4 separate regions of the Homo sapiens genome follow, and all the other regions are linked to region 1. Evidence: fine-mapped expression QTL. A gene starts in region 1. Each other region holds a variant in brackets. All regions are shown on one strand. Distances are between the middles of the regions.

The links. PIP is the estimated chance that this variant, and not a neighbour inherited with it, causes the effect.
Region 2: its variant is fine-mapped to the expression of TMEM63C in whole blood (INTERVAL, PIP 0.98).
Region 3: its variant is fine-mapped to the expression of TMEM63C in whole blood (TOPMed, PIP 0.95).
Region 4: its variant is fine-mapped to the expression of TMEM63C in prefrontal cortex (GTEx, PIP 0.94).

Annotation. Positions count from the first base shown.
Region 1 is chr14:77,180,431-77,183,035 of GRCh38, forward strand. It overlaps TMEM63C (transmembrane protein 63C), which reads left to right and starts at 1,368. Exons shown (of 24, transcript NM_020431.4): 1 at 1,368-1,464. RefSeq lists an enhancer at 1,689-1,818.
Region 2 is chr14:77,226,282-77,228,886 of GRCh38, forward strand. The region is part of intron 6 of TMEM63C (transmembrane protein 63C); the gene reads left to right. Among named protein-coding and RNA genes, the nearest start is that of MIR1260A, 39 kb to the right of the region's middle. The variant C/T (reference allele first, on the strand shown) is at 1,378.
Region 3 is chr14:77,235,702-77,238,306 of GRCh38, forward strand. TMEM63C (transmembrane protein 63C) reads left to right here. Exons shown (of 24, transcript NM_020431.4): 9 at 923-1,031. Among named protein-coding and RNA genes, the nearest start is that of MIR1260A, 29 kb to the right of the region's middle. The variant C/T (reference allele first, on the strand shown) is at 1,236.
Region 4 is chr14:77,231,510-77,234,114 of GRCh38, forward strand. It overlaps TMEM63C (transmembrane protein 63C), which reads left to right. Exons shown (of 24, transcript NM_020431.4): 7 at 79-221; 8 at 1,943-1,991. Among named protein-coding and RNA genes, the nearest start is that of MIR1260A, 33 kb to the right of the region's middle. The variant A/G (reference allele first, on the strand shown) is at 1,427.

The DNA.
Region 1 (2,605 bases):
GGGAGGCTGAGGCGGGCGAATCACGAGGTCAGGAGATCGAGACAATTCTGGCTAACGCGGTGAAACCCCGTCTCTACTAAAAAATACAAAAAAAAAAAATTATCCGGGCGTGGTGGCGGGAGCTTGTAGTCCCAGCTACTCGGGAGGCTGAGGCAGGAGAATGGCGTGAACCTGGGAGGCGGAGCTTGCAGTGAGCCGAGATCACACCACTGCACTCCAGCCTGGGCGAGTGAGTGGATAATGGATAGACTTCGACAGAGTCTGTCTATGTGGCTCACCCTTGGGTCTTCGTGGGGTGGTTGGGTCATGAGAACCAGGGGGTCAGGGGAAGAGGGAGATGACTAGAGTGCGCCAGCCTGATACGGTTGTGTGGAAGGGGGTGCTGTGCTGCTGGTTATGGGGAAATCAACCCATGAAAGCATAACCAGCCTTTGACCCCCTCCTCTGGCACCTCATGACCTTGTGTTCACAGGGCTTCCTCTATGGCATTCTTATCATATTGTTAACAGCCCTAACTGGTGAAAGGGAGTCACTTTCAGAGAGCATTGGGCAGTGGCTTCTTTCCCATCAGCTATTGTACTGCAAGTGCCAGATAATGTCGATGACATAAATGTGCCTAGGCCCCTGCCTGGGAGGGAGAGGCTGTTTACTACTGCCCCTTGTTTTGCACACTGGTCTTTGGGGGTTGCAAACACTGGCACCTGTCCTCGGGGTCAAAACCAGTGTCTATAGCAGAGTGGGCAGGACTTTGATGAAACTCTGATACCTGCAGGATTGTGGCCCACCGCAAACCGGAAATGACCCAGCTCACTCCCTTGGCCCTCCCTGGTGGGGCTGTGGCCAATTGTAGATCACTCCTTTGCTGTAGAAGGAGTCTGGGTAGCAGCTGGGTACCAGCCACTAGGCTGGTGCCAGGACCTGGTCCTTGGGCGGGGCAGAGGGCTATCTTTGTGGGAGTGGAGTGGCTTTTCTTGCTTCTGGCTGATGGGACTAAGGAGACTGGGAAAGGCGACATGCCTCAGGGAGGGCGAGGGGAGGTGGCAAAGGAGCTGCCAAGGCCCAATGCATCAGGGCAGCTGGAGCAAGCTGGAACCAGGGACCGGCAGCCTTGTGTGTTTGAGATAGTAATTTGCAGATGGTTCCTGGTAGCGACAGGGTCTCTGAGGCGGAGCCTGGGTCTTCGCGTAGGATCTGCCAGCCTGGGTTCCCCGGCAGGTCAGAGAAGCTTTGGGGCGGGGCCAAGGTTGGCCCCTGCTTGGGAGGAGCCGGGATGCCTCTCTCACAGTGATGCAGAGAGGAATTTGCTGACAGTCCCTTGCCAGGTGGGGCTGGCTTCGCCCAGCCGGCGAGGAGGAGGACCCGCTGGCAGTCTCCTCCCAGGTGGGGAGCGTGGAGCCTGTCACTGCAGCCTGGCGGCCTGAGCGCCGAGCCTGGGGCTGGGGCCGCGGTGCTGAGGACGCAAATGTGGTGAGCACGCGATGCGGGTGCGGTGACCGGGGCTGGTCGGGCCGGGAAGAAGGGGCGCCGGATCCAGGTCCCGCACGGGGAGGGGGCGGGGAAGGATTGCTTGTTTCTGTGCTTTCTGAGACCTTGCATTGGGAGGGATGGGGGTAGGGGAGACTGCGCCACAGTCCCTTGCCACGCTGGCTGTCTCTAGCTTGTACCCAGGAAAGGGTGGCCTGAGCCGCCCACCCGGGAGGGCGTGGCTTTAGTAGACCGGTCTTCACTGGGTTGGGGGAACGGAGGTGGGTAGGAGGTTTGCTTGGGGGGTCCCCGGCCTCCTGCCTGACAGCCAGGTGGGAGTTACCGCTCGGGGCTACCCTCTCCCCCACCCAGGGATTCCCCGGGGCTCTGCCGCCCACTCTCTGGGCTGGGACGGGAGGGGGCAGTCTGCTCCGCCGTTATGGGTTATGACAACGTCACTGCTGCGCTGCTGCCTGGCGGGCTGGGCTCCTGGGCCCCCAGGGGAACAATGCCACCCTTTCCCCATGTGCTTCCAAAGAAAGGCTCTTGCCTCCCTACTCGCCCTGGCCTTGAGAGAGGAACGTTGTGTTTGGATGAAGGCCCTGGGGAAACTGAGGCCCAGGGGTGCTGTGGCTTGACCAAGGTCACTGAGCAGGCCCTACAGAGCTGGCCTCCCAGGCACTGCCTTCACCGAATGCCCTCTGGAGGGGCAGGGGCCCTTCTTCCTCTCTAGACCCCAGGACCTCCCCCCACCCCAGCACCCCATTTCCTCATCCCTGAGAATGCAGGGAGTTGCAACTTCCGCATGGGGCTCCAGGGTATCATGGGTGTAAGCAGCAATTAGATTGTCTGGGGACAGGAGAAAATTGCTCATGAAAAACACCTAAGTGAGCAGAGGGGGTGTGAGCGTGTGCTGTTCTTGTGGGTTCAAGGAAAGAATGAGAGTTGGCTTTGAGGAGAGGAAGGCCCGTGCTGATGGGAATGAGGAGATGAACTTTCTCCTTCAACAGCCTGCAGCGCTCCAGGAAGATGTGTTTTCCCTCAAGAAAGGGTCCATCTCTTAGCACCACCCTCTGTTATCACCTTATCCTTGTTCTCTCTCCGGCCCCTGTCCCTGGGAGAAATGGGCTACATTCCGTCT
Region 2 (2,605 bases), 46 kb after region 1:
TGTCAGGGACCCAGCATCTGGGAAAGCAGGAAGGCAGGGCATTGCACCGTGCATCCAGCAGCTCTTGAGAGCAGTGTCATAGAAGACAGCTTAATGCGTTTACTGAGCAGCAATAAGTCAAGTAGCGTCCCCGTGCACAAACCCATGCGGTCTGGTTGGAGAAACAAAGGTGAACAAGACTCCCTTCGTAGCATTCAGAATGGGAGGGTTATAATTGCTGTGCAGACGGCATGTGGGGAAGAGAGAAATTAATTCCAACTGGAAAAGTATAGTTTTGAGCTGGGCATTGGAGGACAGGAAGAGTTTCGACAGGCGCGATGTGGGATGTGGAGGGCACATCAGAAGTAAAGGACCGTGTGAGCCAGTTTGTTGCAGAGATGAGTAGGGTGTGCACAGACATGGTAAATCTGGTGTGACTAGAAGCAAGGTTTCATGGTAAGTGTGGCGGGGGAGGGTAAAAGATTGGGCTGGAAGGATCAGTTGGGATTTTTTTTTTTTTTTTTTTGAGACAGAATATCTCTCTGTCACCAGGGTGATGTGCAGTGGCACAATCTCAGCTCACTGCAACCTCCGCCTCCTGGGTTCAAGCAATTCTCCTGCCTCAGCCTCCCGAGTAGCTGGGATTAGAGGCACGTGCCACCATGTCCAGCTAATTTTTGTATTTTTAGTAGAGACGGGGTTTCACCATGTTGGCCAGGCTGGCCTCAAACTCCTGACCTGAGGTGATCCACCTGCCTCAGTCTCTTAAAGTGCTGGGATTACAGGCATGAGCCACCGCACTGGGCCTCAGCTGGGACCTTGGCTGGCATACTGAGAATCTTGGGCTTTCATCTAGAGACAGTAGAGAGCCAATTAGTATTTTTAAGCTGGAAACTCAGAACAATATATGTGTGTAGGCAGAAGTATGGAGAGTGAATGGCATTAGAGAAAGTCCAAAGTCAAGGTGAGCAGTTAAGGAGGCTATTCCAATGGTCGAGGTGGGAGGTGCTAGTGACCTGAACCGGGGCAGTGACTAGAGAAACAATGGGAGGGGAAGATGGGAGGGAGATCATAAGGCTACAGTCAGTAGGTTGTGGCCTAGTTAAGAAAGAGGGAGAAATTGAGGTCTGGTTTCTGGGGAGGGTAGTAATGCCATTAGGTGGGAGAGGAAACACAAAATGATGAGATGTAGTCAGGGCAAGTATGCAAGCTGACAAAGGAGCTGTTGAAAAAACAAGATTGAAGCCTAGGAGAAAGGTCAGAGTTAGAGATTTCAACTTGGGAGATGGTGCATGGAGGCTGTAGTTGAAGTCATGGGAGCAGATGGGTCATCCAAGGATGTAAGACCAGAAGCGGCCCAAGGGAGTGCCTCATCGAGGCGGGAGGAAGAGGCATCCT[C/T]TGGGCTGGACTCAGTGAAGCCAGGCCAGGACAAGGCTCCCCTCTAGGGTGGGGCGACCCAGAAACCTCTAGTGCTACAGAGGTGGAGTAGAATGGGGGTTGAGGAAAGGACATTGACTTTGGTGAGTTGGGTCTCTGTTGGGAGGGCAGGCCGAGGATAGGATGTCCAAGACACAGAGGCAGAGAAGGAAGGTCACCTTTTTCCAGAGGTGCATGGAAGGAGGGAAGTGAAGCTACTGGAAGGAGGAGGGAAAACAGGTCAGGGAACAGATCAGAGAGTGGATCCTTGAGGAGCTGTTTTATTACAGAGGAACCAACAAGCACTTGAGCCTGGTTGTAGTTTACAGGGAAGAGGTGTGGGTGGACGCAGGTGCATGCAGAGAGAGGAGGATGCCGAAGATGAGAGAGCAGAACAATGGATCCAGCACGTCTTCAGAAAGAGGTGGAAGGAAGGGAAGCAATGAGAGCAGAGACAGAGAATTAATTGTGAGTAGGAAGAAGGGCGATTGGCTGGAAGGTCAGGGTGGGGCACTTACAAGAAAGATGGAGAAAGGAAACAGGCCTAGTGGTGGAGGCAGGAATTCCTGGCCCAGGAAGAGAATTCTAGTGCTCTCAGTGCCATCCAGTCCTGTCCAGCCCTCTGCTCTCTCCACCTGATTGGAGGCTCCTGGACCTCACCCCGCCTCAGGCAGTGCAAGAGGACCTTCCCCCGCTCTCCAGAAGTTCTCATCCATTCCACTTCTGGCATTTCATTCTCAAGTCCAGGGAGGGAAACGTTTAGCCGCTCAAAGTTAAAAAATCAAGAGCTCTAAATAATTCCTCAAATGAGAACATTGAAAACCTTGAAGGTGTGCCTTTTGTAGTATTGTTTAAAAATAAATCTTTTTTTTTTTTTTAAGACGGAGTCTCACTCTGTCGCCCAGGCTGGAGGGCAGTGGTACGATCTCAGCTCACTGCAACCTCCGCCTCCCACGTTCAAACAATTTTCCTGCCTCAGCCTCCCAAGTAGCTGGGATTACAGGCACGTGCCACCATGCCTGGCTAATTTTTATATTTTTAGTAGAGACAGGGCTTCACCACGTTGGCCAGGCTGGTCTTGAACTCCTGATCTCAAGTGATCTGCCCATCTTGGCCCCCCAAAGTGCTGGGATTACAGGCATAAGCCACTGCACCCGGCCTTAAAAATAAATCTGAATCCCAGACTGGATGCTAGTTTTGCATACAACCT
Region 3 (2,605 bases), 55 kb after region 1:
TGATGGGTGGGGGTATGGGGAGACTGTGATGGCTGGGGGTATGGGGAGACTGTGATGGGTGGGGGTATGGGGAGACTGTGATGGGTGGGCGGTATGGGAAGACTGGTGGGTGGGGGGTATGAGGAGACTGTGGTGGGTGGGGGGTATGGGGAGACTGTGGTGGGTGGGGGGGTATGGGGAGACTGTGATGGGTGGGAGGGAGCAGGGAGCCCTAGGAGACTGTGATGGGTGGGGGAGGTGTCCAGGGGGACTGCGGTGGGTGGTGGCCTGGGGAGATGGTGATGGGTGGGGGGGTCTGGGGAGACTGTGATGGGTGGGGAGTCTAGGGAGACTGTGATGGGTGGGGGTCTGGGGAGACTGTGGTGGGTGGGGGGTATGGGGAGACTGCGATGGGTGGGGGCATGGGGAGACTGTGATGGTAGGGGGAGTCTAGGGAGACTGTGATGGGTGGGGGTCTGGGGAGACTGTGGTGGGTGGGGGGTATGGGGAGTCTGTAATGGATGGGGGTATGGGGAGACTGTGATGGGTGGGGGTATGGGGAGACTGTGGTGGGTGGGGGGTATGGGGAGACTGGTGGGTGGGGGGTATAGGGAGACTGTGATGGGTGGGGGTATGGGGAGACTGTGATGGGTGGGGGTATGGGCAGACTGTGGTGGGTGGGGGGTATGGGCAGACTGGTGGGGGGGTATGGGGAGACTGTGATGGTAGGGGGAGTCTAGGGAGACTGTGATGGGTGGGGGTGGGGGATACTGTAATGGGTTGGGGTCTGGGGAGACTTGGATGGTTGTGGGGGTCTGAGGAGACTGTGATGGGCTGGGGGGCCCCAGGAGACTGAGGGTAGGAGGAGGCCCAGGGGTCTCTGTGCAGTGGGCTCTGGGGAGCTCACAGGCTGACCTCACTGCTGCTGCCTCCCTCCCTGCAGGAGCAAGCTCCTGTGGCTGCATAGCCTGCTGTCCTTCTTCTACTTCATCACCAACTTCATGTTCATGGCTCATCACTGCCTGGGGTTTGCACCCAGGAATAGCCAAAAGGTAAGTAGCCTACAAAGCTGCTTCCCACTGTGGGAAGCTGGGGTCCCTCCCCACTGGGCTGACCACTTCCAACCCTCAGAGAAGCCCTCAGAGGGTCCAGGGAGACTGTGATAGATGGGAGGGGGCGGTTTCACCTGAGCAGGGGCCAAGCTTCCTCCCTTCAGTCCTAGTAACAATCACCTGGCCCCCACCTCTCACCCTTCT[C/T]CACCCTCTCACCCTCCTCCACGCTGCTCCACCCTCTCACGCTCCTCCACCCTCTCACCCTCCTCCACGCTGCTCCACCCTCTCACGCTCCTCCACCCTCTCACCCTCTCACCCTCCATCCTCTCACCCCTAATGAAACTTTCAGACTGGTTGGTAAATAGCTGCTGCCCAGGTACCTCCTATCCCTGCCCCTCTGCTGCCCCGCCCCTCCCCAGGGACTCTTGGACTTCCCACCATCTGAAAACTAAAGGATTAACAAGGCCCAGTGGACCAGCGGGGGCCTCCATGCTAAGTGGTCTGGGCCCTGCTGAGCTGCTGCTACTTAGTGTACCTGGCCCTGCCCACCCCTGCTAGGCCCGTGCCTCGCCCTTCTGCAGTCTCTCGGAGATCAGAGACCCCCGTGTATCCCCACCGTCTCAGTTTGGGTGACCCCATCCAAGCAGACCCTGAGACTTGGAATGAGTAGCGCTTGTTTATGGGAGGTGATCCCAGGAAAGGCCAGTAAGGGAGTGAGGATGCAAAGGCAACCAAAAAAAGGGAGCATGGAGGGGCAACTTACCCCTGTGGGCAAGTGGAGCTTCATGACCAGGGAACTCTGGGAGCTGGTGTAGAGCACATGCCCCAGAATTTTCCTGGAGGTGAGCAATCGTGGGTATTTTCCACCAGCTCCCTGTCCACCGTTCATTGAGGGTTGCGCTTGGGGGCTTTAACTCCTCCCCTACTTGGCCCTGCACAAAAGCTGAACATGCCCCAAGGCCGGGAAAGAGCAGTCGCAGTATTTGAAGCATGCTGCAGGTGTTGGTGTGCAGAGATGACTGACGGGGGGCCACGGGCAGGCACCAGCAGTGCCACCCATCTGGACCAGCACCCATGCTCTGCTGGGGATGGGCAAGAGTGAGGAGCATCCTTAGTTCCCGTCCTCAGCCTTTCAAAGGTTCAGTGGTGTGGAATCAGCTCCTTCCAGGCCGTCCATTCAAAAGGACTGATTCACTTGAACCCACCCCAGAGTGCAAATCCACATTCCCTGAAAAGTGAACCCAAATGCTTCAGCCTGCCAGGCATGGAGGCTTGGTCACCCTTGACCAGTCTGGTGTCTGCTACTTCAGCTTTCCTTCTTGTCACCAGAAGCCTCTTTCAAGACCCCTGATTCTTGCAGCACAATTACCAGACTGTCATCTTAAAGGTGACGACCCAGGAAGATATTTCCCATTCACAGAATAAAGTGTGAAGTTTAGGGAAGCTTCCCTACCCTCTCCCCAGAGTCTTGTTTACTTCCCAACTCCCCGGCCCAGTCTCACGTGAGGGATTTCCCTAGAGATGTGAGGCTTTACGCTGGAACAGTGGAAGCTACAGGGAGAGCAGAAATCACT
Region 4 (2,605 bases), 51 kb after region 1:
CCTTCCCTCTACCTCCCCGCAACAAGTGGTGGCCACGCTGGCTCCTGAGGCACGTCCTTGTCTGTGTGTCTCTTCCAGGGACGAGGATCTGATTAACAAGTGTGGGGACGACGCGCGCATCTACATCGTGTTCCAGTACCACCTCATCATCTTTGTGCTCATCATCTGTATCCCCTCCCTGGGCATCATTTTGCCCATCAACTATACTGGATCTGTTCTGGGTAGGCAAAGCTCAGCTGGCCCTGGGGCAGCAGCTGGACCTGAGAGGCAGCCAGGCAAGCCAGTCAGGGCTGGGGTTGAGGGTCTAGACATCTATTTTAATCCTGCCTCTGGGAGTTTGTTGTTGTGTGAACTTGAACAAACCATGCTTCGCTTCTCTCATGTGGAGACTGGAGACGATTCCTCCTTTGTCACAGGTTTGGCCCAGAGCCTGACACACAGCAGGCACATAGTATTAATTCAGTTTGGAACTGAGTGTTCATTCATGGCCCCACTCTGGCTGGGCGTTCCTGGAGACCCTTTTGTGACATGTGACCCACTGCAAAGATCCCTGAACCCACTCTGTTGGACATAACACCATAGGTGCAGAATTTGTCTTGTAGGACCTCTACTCCCACTCATTGGAACAGGGTGAGCCCTTTGGAGGGAACAGCATTGTGGATGAGACCTTGGCTTCTAAAACAGAAAAATCATGGCTCCACAATGTTTACCCACACCTGCTCCCCAGAAAATACCTTTGCCTAGCTAATATGTTATTTTATTTTATATTTTATTTATTTATTTATTTAATTTATTGAGACAGAGTTTTGCTATTGTTGCCCAGGCTGGAGTGCAATGGCGCGATCTCAGCTCACTGCAACCTCTGCCTCCTGGGTTCAAGTGATTCTCCTGCCTCAGCCTCCTGAGTAGCTGGGATTACAGGCACCCGCCTCCACACCCGGCTAATTTTTGTATTTTTAGTAGAGACGGGTTTTCACCATGTTGGCCAGGCTGGTCTCAAACTCCTTACCTCCAGTGATCCGCCCGCCTTGGCCTCCTAAAATGCTGAGATTACAGGCATGAGCCACCGCACCTGGCCACTAACATGTGATTTAACCTTGTATATGGCAAATCAGTCTCCCGAGCTTTACTTTCCTCAACTGTCTTAGGGATTGGGAGATCACATGCCACATACCTATACAGTGTTTGATATACATAGTAGGTGCTCAATGAATAGCAGCTAGTATTTCATTTAGAATCATGAAGCTGAATGGAGCTGTATGAAGACTGTACAACTGGGTGGTGCAGAATAGCACCGTAAATGCCCCAGGGGCAACCAGCTTTCCCCTGATTCCTCAGGTTTCTACCTGTTCATCCTTGGCCAGAGGTAGACCTTAATTAATTCAGTTTAGCACACTGAGTGTCCATGCCACCAAATGCCACTACT[A/G]GAGTAATATCTGAGTCTTGTCTCATCCCAAGAGCTGGTATGTTGGCAGTGATAATATCATGCAGGATTTTTAGACACATTTTATAAGGGGGTGTCTGAACCGTCAAACTAATGCACATAGCCAGAAGGATTTCCTCTGAATGAGGCAGTGTTGCCTTTTCTGGACGTTGCCAGTGGTAATAGTGTTGCTAATTTCATCATTCTGCTCGTGGCTGGATGGCTGGTGCCTCCAACAAGCATTCACTGGGTGTCCATTATGTGCCAATTATGCCCTGGAGATACCACACAAAGAAGTGTTCTCGCTTTCCTCCCGAGAGCCCCAGTCAGCAGTGCCAGGGAAAAGAGGCCTCTGATGTCTTTGTTAAAAGTTGGGGAGAAGCTCTGGGGAACCAGAAGGAAGAGGAGGTCAAAGGCAAGCATCTCCAGACCCCACGCATTTGTCCAGGAACCTTGAATTCTGGCGCCCCCAGCAACTGAGGAGCCAGGCTCGAGGTCAGCAACTTCTTTCTCTTTCAGACTGGAGCAGTCACTTTGCTCGGACCACCATTGTCAATGTCTCCACAGAGTAGGTACCTGATCTTAACCTCCCATTCCATTGGCTGGGGGTGTTGGTGTGGAGAGGAGGTCTAACATGTCAGTTTGCAACATGGGCAGCGTTTTGCTGATAAGAAAGGCCTGGTTTCCCTGGGAATCGGGTCCTGAGTGAGATGCCAGAAGCTGCATCCTCTTGGTGGGGCAGGACTCTTGGTGTGAGATGAGGCCCTGTGTCCTCATCTGTCATGAGTGGAGCTGCCCAAACTGGCCACTCATGAAGACGTGGAGAAATGGTCCTATTTGCTTAGTGTACCCAGATCCCAAGAGGCAGAGACCATGTGCTGAAAGAGATTGAAGATTGTTTTCCTGCCACCAATAGGTTCCAGTCAGCCGTCATATACCCGAGTGAATCATGTGCCTGACAGTCCCCCTCAGAGTCCCACAGCAGACTCGTGCCCCACCTCTGCCATTAACTGGCCCTAGGTCTGAAGCAGTGCACCCCCAACACTGAGCTTCAGTCCTTATTCATGTCCATCATTGGGGAAGAGCTGGTGGACATGCTCTCTAAGCTCCTTCCCCTCACAGGCCAAGAACCTGTGGGTTTCAACTTCAGCCAACCTGACTGGAGGCCATATCAATTTGCCC